Homo sapiens: one gene and its partners. The protein of the gene in region 2 interacts with the protein of the main gene of each other region in a pairwise test. Each region holds a gene or a part of one and is shown on either strand. Other genes may lie near its edges.

Region 1 (7,032 bases), on a different chromosome or scaffold from region 2:
TATCATGAGGTCAGGAGTTTGAGACCAGCCTGACCAACATGGTGAAACCCCGTCTCTGCTAAAAATACAAAAATTAGCCGGGTGTGGTGGCGCGTGCCTGTAATCCCAGCTACTCAGGAGGCTGAAGCAGGAGAATTGCTTGAATCCAGGAGGCGGAGGTTGCTGTGAGCTGAGATTGCGCCACGGCACTCCAGCCTGGGCGACAGAGCAAGACTGTCTCAAAAAAAAAAAATTTTTTTTTTGTAGAGACAGGTTCTCACTGTGTTGCCCAGGCTGGTCTCAAACTCCTGGGCTCAAGCAATCCTCTAGCCTCAGCCTCCCAAAGCCTTGGTATTACAAGTGTGAGCCACCATGCCTGGCTAAGAATTTGAGGATCCAAGGAAATACACAGGGGTCCTGGAACCAGTTCCCCTTGAATTCCTTGGGATGATTGTATTTCAGTTTGTTTCTTTATTCCTCTCTTCCTTTATTCAGTTACTAAACAAGTATTTATTGAATGTAGAGTATATCTGCTCCCCACCCCCACGTGGTGCCTCACTCCTGTCATCCGAGCTACTCCAGAGGCTGAACTGGGAGAATCACTTGAGCCCACGAGTTGGAGACCAGCCTGGGCAACATGGTTAGACCTCATCTCTCAAACAAACAAATGAAAAAAAAAACCCAGCTGGGCGCGGTGGCTCATGCCTGTAATCCTAGCACTTTGGGAGGCCGAGGCAGGCAGATCACCTGAGGTCAGGAGTTCGAGACCAGCTTGACCAACATGGAGAAACCCCGTCTCTACTAAAAAAAAAATAGAAAATTAGCCGGGCATGGTGGCGCATGGTTGTAATCCCAGCTACTTGGGAGGCTGAGGCAGGATAATCGCTTGAACCCGGGAGGCGGAGTTTGTGGTGAGTCAAGATTGCGCCACCACACTCTAGCCTGGGCAACAAGAGCGAAGCTCCGTCTAAAAGAAAAAAAAAAGAGTTCTGAAATGTTAAATACTTATAATTGGATTGCAAGGGCATTTATGTGCGAGTGCATTGCTAGGATATTCATGCCTGTATAATACAGAAAGAAACTTTTTTCCCTGAAAAATTCAGCTTTATTATACAGTTATGCACCAAATTATGTTTCAGTCAATGACAGACCACATAGACAGTGGTGGTCCCATAAGATACTATTGTATTTTTACTGTTCCTTTTCTATGTTTAGGTATGTTTACATACACAAATATTGACCCATGTGTAACGATTTCCTACAGTATTCAGTGCTATACCATGTTGTACAGGTTTGTAGACTAGGAACTATAGGCTCTACCATGTAGCCCAGGGGTATAGTAGGCTATACCATCTAGGTTTGTGTATGTATGCTCTATGGTGTTCACACAACGACAAAATTGCCTAACAACACATTTCTCAGAATATATTCCCATCATTAGGTGACACATGACTTTACTGATGGGTTTTCTTCATTTTGTTTGTTAGGTTTTTTGTTTTTTTAATTGAAAATTGACAGATTATGGCTGCCTATATTTATGAGGTACAAAGTGATGTTATGATTTATGAATACAATGTGGAATAATTAAATCAAGTTGATTAACATATCCATCATCTCAAATACTTATCATTTTTGTGGTGAGAATATTTGAATTTTATTCTATGAGCAATTTTGAAATGTTCAATACATTTTTGTTATATTCACCATGCTGTGCAATGTATTGCAAAGGAAAAAACCTTATTCTTCCTGTCTAACTAGGACTTTGTGCCCTTTGACCATCATTTCCCCATTCCTCCCATCCCCCAGCCTCTGGTAACCACCATTTTTCTTTCTGCTCCTTTGAGTTTGATTGTTTTTTATTTTATACATAAGGAAGAACGTGGTATTTGTCTTTCTGTGTCTGGCGTATTACACTTAGCATAATGTTTTCTAGTTCCATCCATGATGTCCCAAGTGACAGGATTTCCTTCTTTTTCAAGGCTGACTAGTATTTCATTGTGTACACACGCACACGCACACACACACACACACACACACCCCACACCATATTTTCTTCACCTGTTCATCTTTGATGGACACTTAGGTTGATTCCATATCTTGGCTATTGTGAACAGTGCTACAGCAAACATGGGAATGTAGACATCTCTTTGACATACTGATTTCAAATGTTTTGGGTAAATATCGAGAGGTGGGGTTGCTGGATCTACTGATGTTTTCCTAACTACTGTTTTTCTTAACTACAGACAGCCCATTTTTTCTTATGATAAAGACGGCATTTGGCTCATGAGCAAGGTGGCAAGATCATCAAGTGAGTCAGACGTGCAGCTCTGGGAAACAGAAGAGGATGACATGACAGAAGGTGATTTAGGGTATGGCCTCGGAAGGAAACCTGGTGGGATTTATGAAATAGAATTTTCACATAGGTCTAGAAAAAGATCAGATGGAAAGAACTTTAGCCCTCCTCCATTTCCGAGAAAGGGAGAAGAAAGAAATGAAGCGAGTTTTCAGTATTCCAAGCATAAGAGCCAGCAAGATACATTCCCTCAAGTGTCCAGAATTTCCAATTACAGACGACAAAGTAGCACTGGTAAGAATGCTGAATTTCCTCTCCTTTCTTTCTCCTGTGCATAGTATCAAAGCTATAACCCTTCCAAAATCTAAAATAAATAACCATATTGGATTTTAGATTTTCTTTTTTTTCTGGACGGAGTCTTGCTCTGTCACCCAGGCTGGAGTGCAGTGGCACGCGATCTCGGCTCACTGCAACCTCCACCCCCCGGGTTCAAGCGATTCTCCTGCCTCAGCCACTGGAGTAGCTGGGATTACAGGCATGCACCACTACACCTGGCTAATTTTTGTGTTTTTAGTAGAGGCGAGGTTTCACCATCTTGGCCAGACTGGTCTCAAACTCCTGACCTCAAATGATTTGCCTGCCTCGGCCTCCCAAAGTGCTGGGATTACCGGCATGAGCCACTGCACCCAGCTTTTAGAAATTTATCTTTATTCATCTCTTGGGATTGGTGGTAGTATAAAAGTAGTTGATAGCCGGGCGTGGTGGCTCACGCCTGTAATCCCAGCACTTTGGGAGGCTGAGGCAGGTGGATCACAAGGTCAAGAGATCGAGACCATCCTGGCCAACATGGTGAAACCCTGTCTCTACTAAATATACAAAAAATTAGCCGGGCGTGGTAGCAGGTTCCTGTAGTCCCAGCTACTCGGGAGGCTGAGGCAGGAGAATGGCATGAACCCGGGAGGCGGAGCTTGCAGTGAGCCAAAATGGCACCACTGCACTCCAGCCTGGGCGACAGAGCAAGACTCCATCTCAAAAAAAAAAAAAAAAAGTAGTCGATGTTTATATTTCTAAATATTGTACAGTACAGTAGTTATGCATCTAATATATTAATGATATCTATAAATGATTACCAACCTTGCCTTTTTTGTGAAGTACTTTTTTTTGCAGTCAAATATTTACTGGGCATCATTAGGTGTCAGGCACAGGTCCAATTTCTGAGAATAATGTCAGTAAACAAAATAGACAAAGGCCCTAATGTCATGGATTTCACATTCTAATAGAGGAGATAGAAAATAAACCTGCAGGCCGGGTACAGTGGCTCATGCCTGTAATCCCAGCACTTTGGGAGGCTGAGGCGGATGGATCACTTGAGGTCAGGAGCTTGAGACCAGCCTGGCCAACATGGCAAAACCCCATCTCTACTAAAAGTATAAAAATTAGCTGGGTGTGGTGGCACGTGCTTGTAGTCCCAGCTACTCGGGAGGCCGAGGCACAAGAATTGCTTGAACCCGGGAGGTGGAGCCAAAATTGTACCACTGCACTCCAGCCTGGGCAACAGAGCAAGACTTTGTCTCAAAAAAAAAAAAAGAAAAAAAACCAAAACCCTGCAAATCAACAGATGTGTAACATTGGGCAGTGGTAAGTGAAGGGATAGTGAGTGATTATGGGGAATGGGGTGCTAGTATTTCAGGCCAGGGTTAGGAAGGCTTCTGTAAGGAGGTGACATTTTTTTTCTTTTTACTTTTCTTTTTATTTTTTATTTTTATTTATTTATTATGAGGTGGAGTCTCACTCTTGTCGCCCAGGCTAGAGTGCAGTGTCACAATCTCGGCTCACTGCAACCTCCGCCTCCTGGGTTCAAGGTATTCTACTGCCTCAGCCTCCTGAGTAGCTGGGATTACAGGTGCCCGCCCCCATGCCTGGCTAATTTTTTTTTTTTTTTGTATTTTTAGTAGAGATGGGGTTTCACCACGTTGGCCAGGTTGGTTTCAAACTCCTGACCTCAAGTGATCCGCCCACCTCAGCCTCCCAAAATGCTGGGATTACAGGCATGAGCCACCGTGCCTGGCCTTTTTCTTTTTTAAAAAGAGACAGTCTCACTGTGTCACTAAGGTGGAGTGCAGTAGCATGATCACAGCTCACTGCAACCTCAAAGTCCTGGGCTTAAGCAATCCTCTTGCCTCAGTCTCCTGAGTAGCTGAGACTACAGGCATGTTCCACCATATCCGGCTAATTTAAAAGAAATTTTTTCGGCCAGGTGCTGTGGCTCACGCCTGTAATCCCAGCACTTTGGGAGGCTGAGGCGGGTGGATCATGAGGTCAGGAGTTTCAGACCAGCCTGACCAACATGGTGAAACCCCATCTGTACTAAAAATACAAAAATTAGCCAGGCATGGTGGCGTGCACCTGTAATCCCAGCTACTCAGGAGGCTGAGGCAGGAGAATCACGTGAACCTGGGAGGCGGAAGTTGCAGTGAGCCGAGATCGCACCACTGCGCTCCAGCCTGGCGACAGAGCAAGACTCAGTCTCAAAAAAAAAAAAAAAAAAAAAAAAAAATTCTAGAGACAAGGTCTCACTATGTTACCCAGGCTGGTCTCAAACTCCTGACCTCAAGCAGTCCTCCCACCTTGGCCTGAGCACCAGAATGAAGGGGAGAGTAAGGCAGTGGATCTTTGGGAAAGGAGTGTTCCAGGAAGAACAGAGATGCTTCTGGTTATTTTAGGAGGTCATGAAACTCTCAAAAATTGTCAAAACAGTTAGTCTTAATTTATCATAACCAAAAAGAAATTATACCTTACCTTATGGAAATAATAAAATTTAGCATCGTATTTTGATAAAATGTTACAACTCCAAAATGATCGGGAGTCTGTGGATAAGCCCATGCCTGTACCATGGCACCAGCTGTTATCTGGCTAAATATTTTGTAATCTATGTTGTAAAACTTCCTCTTCTGAAACTTCCCCTCAAAGTTGAACAAACACAAATTAGAACAACATGAGAGTGATTTAAGAAACATGGTTTCAGATTTACAAAAATACGTGGTAGCTCGTGGTAGCTCAGGGTTCATCCCCATCCTTCAACATCCCTCTTGAAATCAGAATGGGATTATTTTTATATTTTTCTTCCAATTCCTTATTGTGTATAGAGAATGGATACTGTTTTGAAAGCAAAATGTTGGAAACTGAGCATGATGCTAAGATGCCTTTATAAAAACATGAAGATGCCAGGTGCGGTGGCTCATGCCTGTAATCCCAGCACTTTGGGAGACTGGGGTGGGTGGATCATGAGGTCAGGAGTTTGAGACCAGCCTGGCCAAGATGGTGAAACCCCGTCTCTACTAAAAATACAAAAAAATTAGCTGGGCATGGTGGCAGGTGCCTGTAATCCCAGCTACTTGGGAGGCTGAGGCAGGAGAATCACTTGAACCTGGGAGGCGGAGGTTGCAGTGAGCCAAGATCACACCACTGCACTCTAGCCTGGGCAACAGAGCAAGACTCCATCTCAAACAAACAAACAAACAGCATGAAGAAACACTGGGGTATAAATAAGATTTAAATAGTAATAGTATGAGTTCCCATTTTGTTGGGTTATGAACTTTTCTTTTTATTAAAGTTGGCCCTATCACTAATAGATAATTTCCAAAATACCACACATTTAATGGCTTAAAACAACACAAATTTATTATTTTACAGTTCTGTAGGTCAGAAGTCCCAAACAGGCTACGTCTGGTAGCTGATGCCTATAATCCCAGCATTTTGGGAGGCCGAGGTGGGAGAATCACTTGAGGCCAGGAGTTCGACACCAGCCTGGTCAACATAGAAAGACCACACTCCACAAAAAAAAGTTTAAAAATTAGCAGGTGTAGTAGTGTGCACCTGTAGTCCCAGCTACTTGAGAAGCTGATGCAGGAGCACTGCAGCCTGAGCAATAAAGCAAGACCCTCTCTCTGTGGGAAAAAAAGTCCCAAATAAATTTCAGTGGGCTAAAGCCAGGGTGTTGGCAGGGTGCGTTCCTTCTGGAGGTTCAGTGGGAAGACTCTACTCCTTTGCCTTTTCTAGCTCCAGAGGCTACTGCATTCCTTGGCTCATGGCCCCCTCCCCATCTTCAAAGCCAACGATGGCTGAGTCTTTCTCACATCATATCACTCTAACATTTACCTTCTCGTCTCCCTCTTTCATGTATAAGGACTCTTATGAGTACACTGGACTCACTTGGATAATCCAGAGTACTCTCCCATCTCAAAATCCTTAATCTCATCACATCTGCAAAGTTCCTTTTGCCATGTGTTCACAGCTTCTGGGAATTGGCATGTGGACATCATATTCTGCCTACCACAAGTATTAATAGAACAGAACTTGTCACTGCCAACCCAGAGTCACTCTGCCCTCCTTGGAAGCCTGTATCATCAATCACAGTACAAACATGATTTAGGTTTTGCCTTAGATACTGTCATGTTAATGAAATTTCAGAATAGCAAAGAAAGTTGTTTTGAGAAATATTTTTTCAAAGCAAACATTCTTCTCAATAAAATTTTTTTTTTACTTCCTATACTCTTGCTTATAACTTGCCACTTTAATTTTTTTTTTTTTTTTTTTTTTTACTGCCGTTGAGGCAGAAAGGAAAATGAAGCTCTTAGGAAGCTCAATTTAAATTCTCAGTTGATCACATTAAGGAGCAAATAATTGAAGTTACAGGACTCTTCTAGTCATTCTTTTTGGAAAGAAATTAAATTTAGGTTTTTTTTTGGTTTCTTTTTTTT
Region 2 (5,364 bases):
AATCACGCCACTGCACTCCAACCTGGTCGACAGTCTTTAAAAAAAAAAAAAAAGCAGCCGCACGCGATGGCTCATGCCTGTAATGCTAGCACTATGGGAGGCCGAGATGGGCGGATCACAAGGTCAGGAGATCGAGACGATCCTGGCTAACACAGTGAAACCCTGTCTCTACTAAAAATACAAAAAATTAGCCAGGCGTGTTTGCGGGCGCCTGTAGTCCACAGGACTGGCTGAGGCAGGACAATGGCGTGAACCCGGAAGGCAGAGCTTGCAGTGACCTGAGATTGCCCCACTGCACTCCAGCCTGGGGGACAGAGTGAGACTCCACCTCAAAAAAAAAAACACAAAAAAACACAAGCAGCAACTCAAATATCCATAAACGGATGAATGAATATATAATGACATTTCATGGCAGACTATACTTCTCAGCAATATACAACAAATTAACTCATGTCTACATTGATATCAAAATAAGCATGATGCAGGAGAGCACCCAGGGATTATAAGAGGAAACACTTTATTACATCAGTCAGAAAATTCTAGAAAATGGAAAGTATTATACAGCAGAGTAAATCAATGGTTGTCTGCATAGAGAAAAACTTTATAAAGGCTCCAGGTGAATACAAAGGTGATAGATTAGATAAATTCATTATTGTGACTCTGATGATGGTTTCATGGGATTATAAGAAAATTCAAGCCAGGAGCAGTGGCTCACGCCTGCAATCCCAACACTTTGAGAGGCCAAGGCGGGCAGATCACGAGGTCAGGAGATTGAGAACTTCCTGGCTAACAGGGTGAAACCCCATCTCTACTAAAAATACAAAAAAGGTAGGAGTGGTGGTGGTTGCCTGTAGTCCCAGCTATTAGGGAGGCTGAGGCAGGAGAATGGCATGAACCCAGGAGGCAGGGCTTGCAGTGAGCCGAGATTATGCCACTGTACTCCAGCCTGGGTGACAGAGCGAGGCTGTCTCAAAAAAAAGAAAAAGAAAATTCAAGACTTATCCTACAGCTCAAATATGCATACTTTATTGGATGTCATTTATATATTTTATTTTTGAAACAGGGTCTCACTCTGTGGTCCAGACTGGACTGCAGTGTTGCAATCTCGGCTCACTGCAACCTCTGCCTCCCAGGCTCAAGCAAATCCTCCCATGTAGCAATCCTCCCACATGACAGCTCTCCTGTGAGTTATGCAGCCAGACTTCTGGATAAATATCCTGTATTTGTCACACTAGTAAGGCCTTCATTCAGTGTTAACTATAATCCTGAAGGAATACAGAGGTGTGGCTACAAAACTGCCCAAATTTATTTTACTTGTAAGGACTCTTCTCTAGTGTGAACTCTCCAATATCCAAGGAGAGCAGACCTTTGGGTAAACATTTTCCACATTTGCTGCAATCACAGGATCTTACTCAGGTGTGTATTCTCCAATATTTAATGAGACTGGACTCACTGCACTCATAAGCCCTTTCTTTTGTGAACTCTCTGATGATGACGAAGTGAAGAGATTTGCCTAAATTTTTTTTCACATTCACTGCACCCGTAAGGCTTTTCTCCAGTGTGAACTCTCCTGTGTTTAGTGAGACTGGAGCTTTCGGCAAAAGATTTCCCACATTCACTGCACTCATAAGGCTTCTGACCAGTGTGAACTCTCTTATGAACACGGAATGTAGAGCTGTGGGTAAATGACTTCCCACAATCACTGCATTCATATGGCCTTTCTCCAGTGTGAACTCTCTGGTGTGCAATGAGGTGGTACTTGTGCCTAAAAAATTTCTGACAAACCTCACACTCATATGGCTTCTCTCCAGTGTGAATTCTCTGGTGTACAAGGAGGTGGGACTTACTGTTAAATAATTTCCCACATATCCCACACGTATAAGGTTTTTCTCTAGTGTGAACTCCTTGATGATTACTGAAGCTGTCATATTTGCTAGAGGATTTCCCACATTCACACCACACAGAAGGTTCTTCTGTAGGGAGCAGTCTCTCGTGCTGACTGAGTATATCTTTGGTGCTAAAATGTTTCATGCATCCTCCACAGCTGTAATGGCTTTTTCCCCCATGAAACAGAGACACACACTCAGTTTTGCTGTTTGACTTCCCAGTGTGAGTGGCCTCTTGCTGGAGTAATCCTGACCTGAGCAAAAAGTCTTTCCCACTCTCACTGAAGACAGATGACTCCCCTGACACATGCAACTTACACCTCTTCGCAAACAACGCCTCCTCAACACTCCCTCTGTAGGGTTTCTCTCCAATGTGCTCATTCTGGTGCTGATGAAAGTTTCCACTGTCATACAATTTATTCCCCCAGGCCTCACACCTGTGCAGTTTCTGCTTGTGATGTGTTCCCTGATGATCTGCCACATGCAAAATGTCTCCCAAGATCGGGCCACACATCTCACAGGGGTGGGCCTTCTTGGGAGACACACCTGCCATAGGAGTCCTGACCTGAGTCTCTCTTTGTATATAAATACTCTGCTTAGAAGGTGCCGCCTCATCTTCCACTCCACACCAACAACCTGAAAGCAAGAAAATGCTGGTGAAGTGCATGTTAACTCTGGTGGGAAGGCACAGACCACCCACAAGTGTATCTGAAAAACTGAGGAATTACTCCAAGGAAGTACTTGGAGGAACAGGATGTTGGCTTCAGGTGGAAGATGGTGCTATGTATTATTACTGGACTATAATGGTCACAGAATGTAGGAGGCCTCATAACATAAAGGACACAACCATGTATGTAACACAGGGAGTAGAGGCAGGGTCTACAATCCCTGCATCTGCAAACCACTCATCTGCAGAATTTATGTCCTCATGACATGCGAGTGCTGTAGAGAGGGATTTGTCCAGGCCAAGGAAAACACAAGCACAACACAGCAGCTTCTGCTTGAGGACAGTTTAACAAAGTGTACACATTTGCTAACACAAAACCTGTATGCTAATACTGGAAACCACTGCAGATGAAGATGTGAATAAAATTAAGATGTGAGGTCCAGAGATGTGAAGATTATTCAGGGGAATAAATATCAGACTACAAGCTCATGTACAAATCAGTTAAAGGATTTAAAAAAAAAAAAAGTACAACTGACAAGGAGTACAACTGACAATTCTGAGGTTCTTAACAATGGGGAAGAGGCCAGTACCAGTGGCTCACAGCTGTAAACCCAATGTAGGAAGATCACCTGAGCCCAGAAATCCAAGACCAGCCTGGGAAACATGGTGAGACCCTGTCTCTACAGAAATTATTTTTAAAATGGCCAAGCATGGTGACTCATGCCTACAATCCCAGCACTTTGGGAGGCTAAGGCAAAGGGATCACTCAGGCCCAGGAGATCAAGACCAGCCTGAGCAACACAGCAAAACCTCTCTACAAACATTAGCCAGGTGTGATGGTGTGCACCTGCAGTCCTAGCTACTCAGGAGACTGAGGCTGGAGGATCACTTGAGCCCAGGAGGTTGAGGCTGTGTGAACTATATTCACACCACTGCACTCCAGGTAACAAAAATGACAGTGTGAGAACCTGTCTCAAAAAAGAAAAGAGAAGAGGAGAGGAGAGGGGAGGGAAAGGGAGAAGAGGGAAGAGGAAAGAGAAGAGAGAAGAAAAGGGCCAGGTGTCGTGGGTCATGCCTGTAATCCCAGCACTTTGGGAGGCAGAGCTGGGCGGATCACCTGACGTCAGGAGTTTGAGACCAGCCTGACCAACATGGAGAAACACTGTCTCTACTAAAAATACAAAATATTAGCCTTTGGGGAAAAGAAAGAGAGATCAGACTGTTACTGTGTCGATGTAGAAAGAAGCAGACATAAGAGACTCCATTTTGTTCAGTACTAAGAAAAATTATTCTGCCTTGAGATGCTGTTAATCTGTAACCCTACTCCCAACCCTGTGCTCCAGAAACATGTGCTGTGTCAACTCAAGGTTAAATGGATTTTGGGCTATGCAGGACGTGCTTTGTTAAACAAGTGCTTCAAGGCAGCATGCTTGTTAAAAGTCATCACTACTCCCTACTCTCAAGGACCCAGGGACACAAAACACTGCCTAGGAAAGCCAGGTATTGCCCAAGGTTTCTCCCCATGTGATAGCCTGAGATATGGCCTCATGGGAAGGGAAAGACCTGACAGCCCGACGCCAGTAAAGGGGCTGTGCTGAGGATTAGTAAAAGAGGAAGGCCTCTTTGCAGTTGAGATAAGAGGAGGGCATCTGTCTCCCGCTCATCCCTGGGCAATGGAATGTCTGGGTGTTAAAACCCAATTGTATATTCCATATACTGAGATAGGAGAAAACCGCCTTAGGGCTGGAGGTGAGACATGCTGGAGGCAATACTGCTCTTTAAGGCATTGAGATGTTTATGTATATGCACATCAAAAGCACAGCACTTTTTTCTTTACCTTGTTTATGATGCAGAGACATTTGTTCACATGTTTTCCTGCTGAACCTCTCCCCACTATTACCCTATTGACCTGCCACATGGTAGAGATAATGATCAGTAAATACTGAAGGAACTCGGAGACTGGTGGCGGCAGGGGGAAGGCAGGGTTCCTCCGTATGCTGAGCGCCAGTCCCCTGGGCCCACTTTTCTTTTTTTTTTTTATTTTTTATTCTTTATTGAGACGGAGTCTCGCTCTGTTGCTCAGGCTGGAGTGCGGTGGCACAATCGCGGCTCACTGCAAGCTCCGCCTGCCGGGTTCACGCCATTCTCCTGCCTCAGCCTCTCCGAGTAGCTGGGACTACAGGCGCCCGCCACCACGCCTGGCTAATTTTTTTGTATTTTTAGTAGAGACAGGGTTTCACCGTGGTCTCAATCTCCTGACCTCGTGATCCGCCTGCCTCGGCCTCCCAAAGTTCTGGGATTACAAGCATGAGCCACCGCACCCAGCCCACTTTTCTTTCTCTATATTTTGGATCTGTGTCTCTTTCTTTTCTCAAGTCTCTCATTCCACCTGACGAGAAACACCCACAGGTGTGGAGAGGCAGGCCACCCTTCATTAGCCGGGCATGGTGGCACATGCCTGTAATCCCAGCTACTCAGGAGGCTGAGGGCAGAATTGCTTGGGCCTGGGAGACAGAGGTTGCGGTGAGCCAGATCGCACCATTGCGCTCCAGCCTGGACAACAAGAGCGAAACTCCATCTCAAAAAAAAAAAAAAAAAAAAAAACAATGGAGAAGGCCAGGTGCAGTGGATCATGCCTGTAATCCCAGCACTGTGGGAGGCAAAGGCAGGCGGATCATGAAGTCAGGAGTTTGAGACCAGCCTGGCCAATATGGTGAAACCCCATCTCTACTAAAAATACAAAACATAGCCAGGCGTGGTGGTGCACGCCTGTAGTCCCAGCTACTTGGGAGGCTGAGGCAGAAGAATTGC
Region 3 (7,032 bases), on a different chromosome or scaffold from region 2:
TGGGGTAAGCTTAAATACTCAGAACAAGTGCATTTCAAATGAAACTTCCTCCAGTTTCAGAAAACTTAGTTACTATCTCCTACAATTTGTAAAAATCCGTTTGTCTGAACATAAAAATTAAAAACACTGAGATCTAGCCTGAGTAATACTGCGAGACTCCATCTCTACAAAAAAATTAAAAATTAGCCAGGGGTGGGTGGCATGTGCCTATAGTCCTAGCTACTCAGGAGGTCAAGGCAGGAGATCACTTGAGCCCAGAAGTTGAAGGCGCAGTAAGCTATGATCACGCCCATTGCACTCTAGCCTGGGCAACAGAGCAAGACCCCGTTTCAATCTAAAAAAAAAAAAAACAGCAACAAAACAAACAGATCTCAGAATCTCAGATGAAAGATTTTAGAAACGTTTGGTGTTTGGTGTATTTATTCAATGCCAACTGACAAAACGCATTCTGGAGGATGTTTTCAACTGTCAATGAATTGAAAAATGAAAAGTTCCTTCACAAACATAGTAGAAATAAATGAGTAAAAAAGGAATGACATATTCAAGAGGATGCAGTGTGTTCAATTCAAATAACCTGACTCTACCCATCAAAAGCTCATGTTCTAATCCCATCTCTTAATACCAGGTAACCAATATAGCTATCTAATTTCAAATAACACACAAGCATGAAAAGGGAAAATTTTTCAAAGGAGATTTTTTTAAAGGATATTCTAAAATAAAACCAAAGAGAAAAATAAAAGAGTACAACAGATTTTTAAAAAATAATCTGAGGTCCACAAAGAAATCCGTTACTATCAACTGCTGTCTTCCTCTCAGATAGCAGACGCATTTCCTAACAAGTAATCCTCTGTATGCTCACTTCCAGCATATATAAGACAGTCAAGTAATTTAAGATGCACATACAGTAGCTATGTTATGTGCTTTCTAACAGAAACATTTTTCACCTACATACACAAATGTAACTATAATAAAATAAAAAAGTCTTTTTACGTTAGATTTTGGAGTTACCTGCTGGCAATGTAAATGTTACAAGGTCAGTCAGAAAATAGCAAGCAAAATCCCCCTTTCTCTGATGAAGAGAGGCAGCTATCTCTCTCCGGATTTGTTCTGTCAGTTCAGGACACACCATTGCTGGAATACACTTTGCTGCTTGTTGAGACACCTTAAATACAAAAGAAACCTTCCTCTCATCTCATGTATCATAAGTGGAAGCAGAAAACAACAGTATTTAAAAGAAATCAGCAAAATTTCCCAATAACTCAAGGTTTTCTTTAATCTTAAAATACACTGGTATTATTTCCTTACCAATGAAAGTATATACCAGAATAAGTTTTCAGTAACAGTCACAAAAATGTTTTATCCTCTGATTCAGTAATTCTCTTTAAGAATTTATCACAAGGAAATACTCAAAGATGCACATAAAAATGTATGGAAAAGGGTGTTGTTCATAGACACATCACAGGAAGAGGAGAGAGGACAGAAAACCTCAGTAGACTAACCATCGTGCACACAATAAAAACATTCTTTAGAAGCAGAGAATCACAGCTGATAAAGGGAAACTGCAAATACTCTTCTCCCACACCACAAGTTTCAAGTACCCTAACTTGGACTTAAAAAAAGCACGGTATTTAAAGGGTTAGTTCCCACTGACCTCAAGCCCTTTCTTCCTCTCCATTTGTTACCACTCTTGAGTTTTTAAAAAAGCATTTGGCATCTGCAAGTTTAAACACAGACTGCCAACCTCTGAAGCTCAGCCTGACAGGAGTGAGATGGGAGCACTACTGCACAGGCCTCTAAGCAAGAAAACAACAAACCAAAGAAGGCTAGAACTTTCTTTTGTTATTTTTTTATTCTTTTTAAAATGCTAAATAGCAACAAATGTTGCAAAGATTTAATTTAACCTCACATTTCAGTCATATCTAGTTTGTGGAGCTAAATAAAAATACATACACAGAATTCTAAAATCACAGTTGAGCATCTGCGAGTAACAAACAGAATTCAAGGCCAGGCACAATGGCTCACGCCTGTGATCCCACCAACTCTGGGAGGCCGAGGCGGGTGGATTGCTTCGGCTCAGCAGTTTGAGACCAGCCTGGCCAACATGATGAAACCCTGTCTCTACTAAAAATACTACTACAAAAATTAGCTGTAGTCTCAGCTATTTGGAAGGCTGAGGCATGAGAATCACTTGAACCCGGGAGGAGGAAGTTGAAATGAGCTGAGAACGCGCCACTGCACTCCAGCCAGGGTGACAGAGAGAGACTCTGCCAAAAAAAAAAAAAAAAAAAAAAAACCCCAAAGAGAATACCGTGGGAACCCACAGTGAGCCTGTTCCCTGATGTCACCAACCTGGACGATTATCCCAAAGGTAGCCTTCCAGCCACAGTGGGGTGTGAAGCAACAGGTCTTCCAGCCCCTTCTTCTTCTTCTCAAAGAGTAAGGTTTAATGATAATGTTATCTACATCATATATGCAGACAACTAACTGCTATTGCTATTAAAGAAATAATATTTCAAAAACCCTGCATACCCAGCACAGTTACCTGACTCCCTATTCTGAAACTGCAGCTTGGTGCAGTGGCTCACACCTGTAATCCCAGCACTGTGTGAGGCCAAGGCAGGAGGATCATTTGAGCTCAGGAATTCAAGACCAGCCTGGGCAACATAATGAAACTCTGCCTCTACAAAAAACCCCAAAATATTAGCTAGGCATTAGTGGCATGCACCAGTAGTCCCAGCTACTGGGGAGGCTGAAAGGTGAGAGGATCACTTGAGCCAGGGAGGTCAAGGCTGCAGTGAGCCATGATCACTCCCCTGGGCAACAGAGAGAAAGTCTGTCTCAAAAGAAAAGAAAAAAATAAAAAATTTAAAAACTCCTACGTGGAAATTCAGTTCAACTAGACTTTATTGGCCAAGATTACCATTAACCATGAAAATTCTCACTATATCTTAACTCCATGAGCCCAACCATTAGTCAACACTCAAACATGGAAAACCAAATATTAAATATTTTCAGAATATAATTGACTATTTCTCAAGTAACATAGTTAAAATGGCTCCCCCAAAGTAAATTCAAAAATAGCTTATTCCCATCAGCTAGCTCTCAGGCCCTTTCCAAAAACCTGGAAAGACCTTTCCAAAAACCACCTGGACTGGACCCTGACTACCACAAACATTCTAAAAGAAACTTAGCCCCCAAACAACCCCTTCCACCACCATCCTTAAGCAGGATGTGCCCCTGAAGCCTGCCACTCACCTTCTCACCTCCTTCAACCTTATGGTTCTCAACCATCTCCGTAGGCTGGGAGTTCTTAACTTAGGGTCCATGATCTTGGGAATGGTCCATGTACTTTAATGGGAATTTGGTTTTAATTCAAGTTAAATCAATTATCCCCAACTTTTTACCTATATTAAAATGTATTTTCTTATATATCACAAATTTAGTTTAGTATTTTGGTAGCTATTACTTCAATACAACTGATTTCCTTTGTAATCTCATTTACTTCTTATTTTTTGTATTTAAAAACAGTATTCTGGGAAGGAGTCCATAAGTTTCATGAAACTACCAACATGGTCCATGACACAGAAACCGATGAAAATTCCTGCCCCACATACATATCCCCAACTCTAATGTTCTCCTGTTCTCATTCCAAAAGAACTTGGCTGAGCATTCTCTGCAACACACCCCCTTAGTCTAGACTTAGTCCAGACTCCCCCACTTCCAGTCTCCCTACTGGCCCCTTTAATTCTGTCCTTTGGAGTATTTACTCCATGGAGACTGAATCCATGACCAATTTTGCTCTTTGCCTGGAACAAATCCCCTCCACCTCTCCCACGCTGTTCCAGGGTTGTTCTACACGTCCCACGGAATACAGCAAAAGTAATGGTATGTTGCTTCCTAAATCAATTTATAAAAGACACTGCAGGTTTCAAAGACACTGGATCACTCTCTTGTACTCTGTGCCTCTCTTGGATCACTTGTTGGGGGTAAAACCAGCTGCTGTATCATGAGCATCCCTGTAGACAGGCCTGCATGGCACAGTATTGAAGCCTCCTGCCAAAAGCCACCTGAGTGGGCTTAGGAACAGATACTCTAGCCCCAGTTGAGTCTTTTGACAACTACAGCCCTGGACCACTTGACTGCAACCTCATGACATCATGAGCCAAAACTATTCAGCTAAGCAGCTCCTGGATTCTAACCCTCACAAACTCTGTGAGATAACATACATTTGTTGTCTTAGCTGCTAAGTTTCCAGACAATCTGTGATACTGCAATAAATATACTGATGTTCGATCATCATCCCACTGTTACTCCTCAGACTGTCTCAGGAGCTCAATGACTCACAATGGCCCCTCTAAAACCTTGTAATAATCTTCTACCTACCTTTAGGGGAGCCCCTTAAGACTTTCACCCTAGTTCACAACCACCTTCTTTATCCTGGCTCCTGTCACCACCAGCAACTACAACTCCACATTGACAGCCCTTCCAATATACAATAGACAACACAACTAGGCACCACAACACAAATGCAGCCAGGCCTTCGACACTAGAAAAACTCCAATTCTTCTATCTCATGTTCCAAAACCTGGATCCCTCTATCTGAAAAGTTCCCTTCTCCCTTATACTCAATAAGCCTGCCCTTTTGTTTTCATCATGGCCTTCAGTCTCTCAAGCCCCCCACCCCGGCTTCACTGGAATCTTACCAAACTGGACACAGGGGTTAGCTACTACAATCATGTTTCCATCTAACCTTCAAATTTTTTAATCCCCATACAGTGCCCTGCAGTGGTTCCCAAATATTGGCAAATTTGAATAAACAAATATGCAAAAGTATATATGAAAGATGTATACTGACAAAATTTGAATCCACAATTAATATGACTCTCTGCACTTTTACTCTATTTCTCTTACCATTAAAAAATGTTACCTTGGCCAGACACGGTGGCTCATGCCTATAATCCCAGCACTTTGGGGGGCCGAGGCGGGCAGATCACTTGAGGTCAGGAGTTCAAGACCAGCCTAGCCAACATGGTGAAACCCCACCTTTCTAAAAATACAAAATTAGCCAGGCATGGTGGCATGTGCCTACAATCCCAGTTACTTAGGAGGCTGACAAAGGAGACTCGCTTGAACCCAGGAGGCAGAGGCTGCAGTAAGCCAAGATCGTGCCACTATACTACAGCCTGGGCAACAGAGTGAGACTCCAGCTTAAAAAAAAAAAGAAAGAAAAAAAAAACCTGGATAATGTAGTCACATTCTGAATAATTCATACACAATCTCTATCATTGGTAGCATGTACCTAGTTATGTAAGCCAGAAACTGAAGAATCAACTTACATCCACACTGTATCTTCCCATATCCAATCAGTCTACTTCTTCAGACTGAGGGCCTGTCTCAGTCTCTCCAACCCTCTAACCCTCTTCCCATTTCTAAGGCTACCCTTCTGGGTACCCTTCTATGGCTACCCTTCTGCCCTTCTGGCAGAAGTTCTTGCCAGCACCTCTGCAACTCCCTCCTAACCAGGCTCACCCCTCTCCAGTGTGCAGCAGCCAAAACACAATCTGCTCTGCTCACTCCCCTGCGCCCATACCTAACACCATCCAGTGCCTAGGGATAATCTTCAAATTCCTTGACACAGAAGATCCTTCGTAATCCAGCCTCTGCTTATCTTTCAGACTTCCCTTCTCTCCATTCCCAATCACCATCTCAGCCATGCTTAGTTACCTGCAAGTCCCTAGATTCACCACAAATTCCACCATCTCTGCCCCCTGTAAAAATGCTTTCCTCAACTTCCCTTCTCTCCCTTATCCACTTCATGTGGCTAACTCCTAACTCTTTCTCTTCAAATTGCAGCAAAAACATTACCTGCTATAAGAAAGACGACAAGACACCTCAAAACTCTTCAAGTACTGGCATAACACTTGGCATTTACATCTACCAGGGCACAGGCTGCACAGAATTACCTGTTCATTTCTCTACTTTGCTGGAGATTTAATGAAGAAAGAGCCAGTATCTTTACAATTGTATCCCTTCTCAGCCTAGTGCATGGCACACAGTAAATGCACAATAAATATCTGTTAATTGAATGACTAAAGAATGACAGATACATCCCAGGTTTGTATGAACCAAACATGATGAGTCAAACATTGTTGTGACTATTCAAATATTTGAAAGCATATACCCTTAAAAATTAAGTCTCTTAAGTTTAATGTTATTTTTAAAAGGGGGTAAAAGAATTCAAAACATTTTAAAGCTGCTTAGAGAAACATTATAAAATCAAAAATGAAAACTAAAGAACAGGTTTCTTTAATATAAAAGAACATTTAACCAAAACGCCAAACTTACCTCTGTAAGCAATATTGCTAGCATATCCTGCCTCTGAAAACGTATAGCCAAGTGTACAAGAGTATAGCCAACATCAAAGGCAGAAGGACGATTCAGCAAGCGTACTTCATCTGCGGTGAGCTGACGTGCAATGTCTCCTCCTGATGACTTGTATGCTTCTATGGCAGCTAAATCACCTTCTACAACCCCTAAAACAAGCATCAAGATAGAAAAGCATTTAATTCTCATTTTCTTCAAAAAACACAAACCGTAGCAATCACTCCAAAATCTTTTAAGTGTTTCTCTGTGCTTCCTGGATCCTGATGCATCATTTAAATGTCCTATAAGAGTAAGGAAAATAAGTTTTTTCCTTTCCCTTTAAAAATTTTCCTTCCAGAACTAGAACTGCCTAGACATTTACCTTACCATCAGTGCAGGCTCCAGGCTCTGGTGAGATTTAGAGGAACTATTAGGCTGCATGAATTGGATCGAAGATCAATAATCTAGTATGAGAAACCAGACGTAACAAGAGACACTGAGCCCCTGGTTCCGGTCCTGCGTTCATCCTGACTCTGCAGAAACCAAGGAGACAGGGATGTGCTTCCAGCTGGTGTTGAGCTCCTCCTGCCCTTTACACTGCATTCTTAAAGCAGAATCAAAACAAATGCTGAGCTTTCCATACTGCTCTTTAGCTTTGAAACAACTTAG
Region 4 (7,032 bases), about 42 Mb from region 2:
CACTGCACTCCAGCCTGGGCAACAGAGCAAGACTCCGTCTCAAAACAAACAAACAAACAAAAAGAAACATCACTGTGTACCCCATGAATATGTACAATCATTATTTGTCAATTCAAAAAATAAAAAATAAAGTGAAATTTAAAAATTATAAGATAATAATAGCAACAGCAATTTATTAAACACCTATTGTGTGCCAGGAGCTGTGCTGAATTTTCTCCATATATTAATTTGGGGTTCAGCAAACCTTTTTCTGTAAATGGCCAAATAGTTGATGTTTTCAACTTTATACCATGACGCAACTCTGTTGTTGAAGCACACAAGCAGCCATAGACAAAATGTACACAAATGGGTGTGGCTGTGAGCCAATACAACTTTACTGATGGACACAGAAAAGTGAATTTCGTATCACTGTCACGTGTCATGGAATAATCTTTTTTTAAATTAAAAAAAAATTTTTAATGTGTTTATTTATTTTTGAGACAGAATCTCACTCTGTGACCCAGGCTGGAGTGCATGGCACAATCTGAGCTCACTGCGGCCTTGACCTCCTGGGCTCAAGCAATCCTCCCGCCTCAGCCTCCCAAGTAGCTGGGACTACAGGCATGCACCACCATACCTGGCTATTTATTTATTTATTTATTTGTAGATATGGACTCTCCTTATGTTCCCCAGTTTGGTCTCAAGCTCCTGGGGTCAAGAGATCCTCCCCACTTAGCCTCCCAAAGTGCTGGGATTAAAGGCATGAACCACCCCACCTGGTTGGAATATTATTATTCTTTGATTGTTTTTTGATCTTTTGAAAATATAAAAGCCATTCTTAGCTCACAGGAGGTACAAAACCAGGCTTTGGGTCAGACTGGCCTATTGGCCGTACTTTGCCCTGCAGTGGCGGCTGATTTTCCCCAAAGGCTGCCAAGTACAGTTACACAGTCTGTTCACTGCAAACTGTTCAGGCAACAAGGGCTGAAGTCCAGCCACATTCTGCTTGCTGAAAGAGGTGTATCCACTCGCAAGAGGTGCCCAGGGGGTCCCTAATTATCCCCATTTTACAGATGCAGGGACTGAGACTAGGGAAATTGAGAAAGTTTCCCAAGGTCATGAAAGAATGAATAGAGGAATTTTCAGAAACAGAGTCTGTGAACTGTCTGCGTAAGAGCCCCTTCAGATGTGCAAATGGACTGTGGGCGGTGACGGAGAGCATCACCTGAGGAAGTCTGGTGCCCGGAGGATCATGTTCTGGAAATCTTCCAGGGACAGCCGCCCATCATGGTCTCCATCAGCCTCATCCAGCACCTTCTCACATACCAGGCTCACCTCCTCGGCACTCAGCCCCCCCCGCGTCAGTTTGGTCACCGTCTGCTCCAGGTCCCACGCACAAATGTAGTCGTCGTTGTTAAAATCTGCAGAGCAGGATGGATGGGGAGTGACAGCAGGTGGCAGGAGGGCTAGGCCGGCTGTGGGCACATACTGTGCCCATGTTACAAGAAGGGGAAACTAAGGTCGGGCACGGTGGCTCACGCCTGTAATCCCAACACTTTGGGAGGCTGAGGAGGGTGGAACACCTGAGGTCAGGAGTTCGAGACCAGCCTGGCCAACATGGTGAAATCCCATCTCTACTAAAAATACAAAAATACCCAGGTGTGGTGGCATGCACCTGTAATCCCAGCTATTCAGGAGGCTGAGGCAGGAGAATCACTTGAGCCCGGGAGGTGGAGGTTGCAGTGAGCCAAGATCTCACCACTGCACTCCAGCCTGGGCAGCAAGACAGAAACTCCGTCCAAAAAAAAAAAAAAAAAAAAGGAACTGAGGCCCTGGGAGGGCACCCGAGACCCTGGTGTAAAATCTGGAACTTGCCTTAAAATTGGGCAGGGACCTGCTGGGAGTTCATTCATTCATTCAACAAGTATTTATGCAATGAATTTTTCATTCGTTCTTTTTTTTTTTCTTTGAGACGGAGTCTCGCTCTGTCGCCCAGGCTGGAGTGCAGTGGCACGATCTCGGCTCACTGCAACCTCCACCTCCTGGGTTCAAGTGATTCTCCTGCCTCAGCCTCCCAAGTAGCTGGGATTACAGGTGCCTGCCACCATGCCCGGCTAATTTTTGTGTTTTTAGTAGAGATGGGATTCCCCATGTTGGCCAGGCTGGTCTCAAATTCCTGACCTCAGGTGATCCACCCACCTCGGTCTCCCAAAGTGCTAGGATTACAGGTGGAAGCCACCACACCCAACCTCATTCATTCATTTTTACAAGCATTGAGTGCCTGCTGTGTGCTAGGCACTGTAATAACTTTTTTATTCACTCATACAAGTATTTATTGAGCATCTACTATGTGTCAGGCATCACAGTAACTGATTTTCATTCACTCACTCACTCAACAAGTATTTATTGAGTGCAATTTTCATTCATTCACTCACTTAACAAGTATTTATTGAGTGCCTACTGTGTCCTGGCACTGTGATAATAATTTTTCATTTACTCATTCAAAAAACAGTTATGGGCCCGGCGCAGTGGCTCATGCCTGTAATCCCAGCACTTTGGGAGGTGGAGATGGGTAGATCACCTAAGGTCAGGAGTTCCAGGCCAGCCTGGCCAACATGGTGAAACCCCATCTCTACTAAAATTACAAAAATTAGCGGGGCGTGGTGCGGGTGCCTGTAATCCCAGCTACTAGGTAGGCTGAGGCAGGAGAATCGCTTGAACCCAGGGAGTGGAAGTTGCAGTGATCTGAGATCGCGCCATTGCACTCCAGCCTGGGCGACAAGAGTGAGACGCTGTCTCAGTAAAAAAATAAATAAATAAAAATAGTTATTGAGTGCCTACTATGTGCCAAACACTGTGACAGCTCTTTCATTCATTTATTCAAGTATTTCTTGAACACGTACTACGTATCAAGCACCATGATATCTGTTTTTCATTTATTCACTCACTCAACAAGTATTTATTGAGTGCCTACTGTGTAGTGGGCACTGTGATAACTTTTTTCATCTATTCACTCAAAAAGTACTTTTTAACTGCTTACTGTGCACCAGGCACTGTAATAACTTTTTCATTTATTCATTCATTCATTCATCCATTCAGGAAGTATTTATTGAGCACCTACTACATGTTGGGCACCATAACTCTTTTATTCACTCACTCAACAAGTATTAGTGTCTACTGTGTGCCAGGTACTCTGATAACTTTTTCATTCATTCATTCATGCAACAAGTATTTATTGAGCACCTACTATGTGTTGGGCACCATGATAACTATTTTTCATGTACTCACTCAAAAAGTATTATGGTGGCAGGGCACGGTGGCTCATGCCTGTAATCCTGCCACTTTGGGAAGCCGAGGTGGGTGGATCACTTGAGGTTAGGAGTTCAAGACCAGCCTGGCCAACATGGTGAAACCCCATCTTTACTAAAAATACAAAAATTTGGCTGGGCGTGGTGGTTCATGCCTGTAATCCCAGCACTTTGGGAGGCTGAGGCGGGTGGATCACCTGAGGTCAGGAGTTCGAGACCAGTCTGGCCAACATGGTGAAACTCCGTCTCTACTAAAAATACAAAAAATTAGTCAGGCGTTGTGGCAGGCACCTGTAATCAATCTCAGCTACTCAGCAGGCTGAGGCAGGAGAACTGCTTGAACCCGGAAGACGGAGGTTGCAGTGAGCTGAGATCGCGTCACTGCACTCCAGTCTGGGGGACAGAGCAAGACTTTGTCTCACAAAAAAAAAACACACACACAAAAAAAACAAGTATTTATTGAGTGCACACAAGGTGCCAGGCACTAAGATAACTGTTTTTCTTTCATTCAGTCATTCAACAAATATTTACTGAGCCAGGCTCAGATGACAGGTGGTGAGCAAAATAGATACTGTTGGTACCTTTGAGTCTTCTCAGGGACAAAGTCAATAAGAAGTGAACAGGTCAAGGAACAAGAAATTAAGCAGCATTGCCTGGTGCTAGAAGAGAAATAGGATGGTGGGATGGGGGGATGAATGGGGAGAGGCCTACTTTTGACCTAGACTTCAAGGGTAAGAAGGAGCCAGGGGAGCTGGGTGCGGTGGCTCACGTCTGTAATCCCAGCACTTTGGGAGGCCGAGGCGGGCGGATCACCCGAGGTCAAGAGTTCGAGACAAGCCTGGCCAACATGGTGAAACCCCGTTTCTACTAAAAATACAAAAATTAGCCAGGCGTGATGGCACCTGCCTGTAATCCCAGCTACTCGGAAGGCTGAGGCAGAAGAATCACTTGAACCTGGGAGGCGGAGACTGCAGTAAGCCAAGATTGAGCCACTGCACTCTAGCCTGGGCAAAAAGAGCGAAACTCCATCTCAAAAAAATAAAAAATAAAAATCAATAAATAAATAAGGAGCAAGGCGAAAGGTGTTCTAGGCAGAGGGTTCAGCAGAGGCAAAGGCCCAGAGGCCGAAGACTGTGTTTGAGGAACAGCAAGGCCCATGTGGCTGGAATAGAGTTAGCAAATAAATGAGGTGGGGAGGCATTGGAGTGGGGTGGAGGACAGGGCCACATAGGGCCTCAAAACCCCTGGGGAGATATTTGTGATGTGGGTGCCACCCACCCAGTTCCCACTCCCCACCCCATCCCCATGCTTCCCAACCCCAGGGCCACGCACGCACCATAAATTTTAAAAGCATAGTAAGCCTTGAGGTCGCGGGGAGCCATTTCACTCATCACGGAAAACATGTCCAAAAAGTTGTCCAGGGTCATGTGGCCATCCCCATCCTCAGAGAATACCTGGGCAATCCTCTGGCGGAAGGGGTTGTCCTGGGGACAGAAAGGAAGCTGGGAGGCCATCCTCTGACCCCCAAGGTCTCTGGGGTCCATGTGGTCTCACTATCAGCACCCACCTTCTGGGAACCTCCAAGTACCCTCCATCAAGACCCACTCCCTCCCATGGTCCCTGGACAGGACTTTGGACAACTCCACCCTCCACCCCTGTGATCTGAGCAACCTTGCCCCAACTTCCAGCTCTTGGAGCAGCCATGTGACCCAGGCAAGGCCAATCAGAGAGTTCCATTCACCTGGCAATAGTGATTGGCTCTGTGATGGGCATGTGACTCAAGCTAGCCAATCAGAGGCTGACCTGGGATATTTTTCTGAAAAATTGGGAGGGAGGGGACCTGATTACTGCTGCTTGCAAAGCTCACAGAAGCTAAAGCTGAGTGGCTGAGAGGTCCCTTCACAGCCTCAAGAGGTGAGGCTGCCTTAGACTGAAACCTCTTCCTGGGAGGAGCCGAGATATGGGGGGAGATTCCTGAGCACATCATCAGAGGCCCTGGTTCCAGCTGTACCTGACACTGTCCCTGCCTCTGGATTTTTTTGTTGTTGTTCAGGGGCAATCCATTTTGATCCAAACCATTCTGTCCCTCTCAAATAAGGTTTTTGTCACTTGCAATAAAATCAACCCTACTCACAGTCAGTTACTCAACCCACAAGTTCCCCTTGGAGGCACAAACCATGTGTCAAACATCCTGCTGATAAAAACCTGCATTTAGCAGCTCCTGTTACAAGAAGAACTAACGTTCTCTGAGTACTTGACACACAACACACCCTGTACTGAATTTGTTGCCTGTATTATCTCGTTTCATCCTCCCAATTCTGGGTGTTTTTTGTTTGTTGTTTGTTTGTTTGTTTGTTTTTTGAGACAGAGTCTCACTCTGTCGCCCAGGCTGGAGTACTGTGGCTAGATCTCTGCTCACTGCAACCTCCACCTCCTGAGTTCAAGCAATTCTCCTGCCTCAGTCTCCCTAGTAGCTGGGATTACAGGTGTGCACTACCACGCCCAGCTAATTTTTGTATTTTTAGTAGAGACGGGGTTTCACCATGTTGGCCAGGCTGGTCTCGAACTCCTGACCTCAGGTGATCCACCCGCCTCGGCCTCCCAAAGTGCTGGGATTACAGGCTTGAGCCACCACACCAGCCAACTCTGGGTTTTAACCCTGTCTCTGTCACATTGTAGCTGTGTGACCATGAACAAGTGTCTTAACCTCTCTGAGTCTCAGTTTTCTTATCTTTAAAATGGGGATAACTGCAGCACTGACCTCAGAGGAATGCAACGAGAGACATCTCTACTATTTTTTACCCTGTTTGTCCCATGGCCTGGGCATACCTTCAGCTCGGGCATGCTGCCAATGAGCTCGTAGGGCACCTTCACATCGGGGCAGGTGGTATAGTCGAGGGGCACGAGCTGTGGGGCCAGGTCCTGGTAGCGATAGAAGAGCCTGATGTGGGGAGGAAAAAGCTGGGAAAGACTGGGAGCAGGGAGCAGGCAAGACGCTTGTCCCTTCTTTGTTTTTTGAGACAGAGTCTCGGTCTGTCACCCAGGCTGGAGTGCAGTGGCACAATCTCGGCTCACTGTAACCTCTGCCTCCCGGGTTCAAGCAATTCTCCTGCCTCAGCCTCCCAAGTAGCTGGGATTACAGGCACACCCTGCCACGCCCGGCTAATTCTTTTGTATTTTTAGTAGCGACGGGGTTTCATGTTGGTCAGGCTGGTCTCAAACTCCTGACCTCAGATGATCCACCTGACTTAGCCTCCCAAAGTGTTGGGATTACAGGCGTGAGCCACCGCACCTGGCCAAGTCCCTTCTCTTTCACATTCACAGCTGCTCACTGCACACTGAGGTATACTGGGTCCCCAAGAACACTCAGCCCTGGGCCTGGACCTCAAGCATACAGAGCCTGACACAGGCACCCCTAACCTCCCTGGGGGCAGGGTCAAGGTGCAGAGAGGGCCACAGGACAAAGGGAGACTGGACTGGGGGAAGCAAGCTAGCGAGGAGAAGGGGGTTCCTGGAAGAGGGGACATTGGTTCTGGGCTTTGAAGCATGAGTAGGAGCTTCTAAAGCAGATGGAGTTGGGAGAAGGGAGGGTGCTTATGGCCAGATCACAGCAAGCATTCAGAGAATCCTATATAATCCACACATCTCTGGATATTGTCATGTTATCAGCAAGACCCTGCCTCCAAAGATACCTTCACTTTCATACCTTCCCTTCCTCTCCTTATAATGGGAGGAAGAGGCCGGA

What was found.
Region 1: the proteins of ZNF552 (region 2) and CCDC125 interact in binary tests that used the Homo sapiens proteins (3 or more experiments, as listed by UniProt).
Region 3: the proteins of ZNF552 (region 2) and ZRANB1 interact in binary tests that used the Homo sapiens proteins (3 or more experiments, as listed by UniProt).
Region 4: the proteins of ZNF552 (region 2) and CIB3 interact in binary tests that used the Homo sapiens proteins (3 or more experiments, as listed by UniProt).

Annotation. Positions count from the first base shown.
Region 1 is NC_000005.10:69,315,771-69,322,802, reverse strand, and holds part of CCDC125 (coiled-coil domain-containing protein 125), read left to right. Parts: intron 1-2,222; 5' UTR 2,223-2,262; coding exon 2,263-2,566; intron 2,567-7,032. UniProt on the Homo sapiens protein: May be involved in the regulation of cell migration.
Region 2 is NC_000019.10:57,806,582-57,811,945, forward strand, and holds the end of ZNF552 (zinc finger protein 552), read right to left. Parts: intron 2,523-5,364; coding exon 1,459-2,522; 3' UTR 501-1,458; downstream 1-500. UniProt on the Homo sapiens protein: May be involved in transcriptional regulation.
Region 3 is NC_000010.11:124,966,095-124,973,126, reverse strand, and holds part of ZRANB1 (ubiquitin thioesterase ZRANB1), read right to left. Parts: intron 6,534-7,032; coding exon 6,346-6,533; intron 1,163-6,345; coding exon 1,009-1,162; intron 1-1,008. UniProt on the Homo sapiens protein: Ubiquitin thioesterase, which specifically hydrolyzes 'Lys-29'-linked and 'Lys-33'-linked diubiquitin. Also cleaves 'Lys-63'-linked chains, but with 40-fold less efficiency compared to 'Lys-29'-linked ones.
Region 4 is NC_000019.10:16,163,514-16,170,545, forward strand, and holds part of CIB3 (calcium and integrin-binding family member 3), read right to left. Parts: intron 6,229-7,032; coding exon 6,117-6,228; intron 4,772-6,116; coding exon 4,624-4,771; intron 1,401-4,623; coding exon 1,205-1,400; intron 1-1,204. UniProt on the Homo sapiens protein: Acts a an auxiliary subunit of the sensory mechanoelectrical transduction (MET) channel in hair cells. Plays a role in regulating hair cell MET channel localization and function.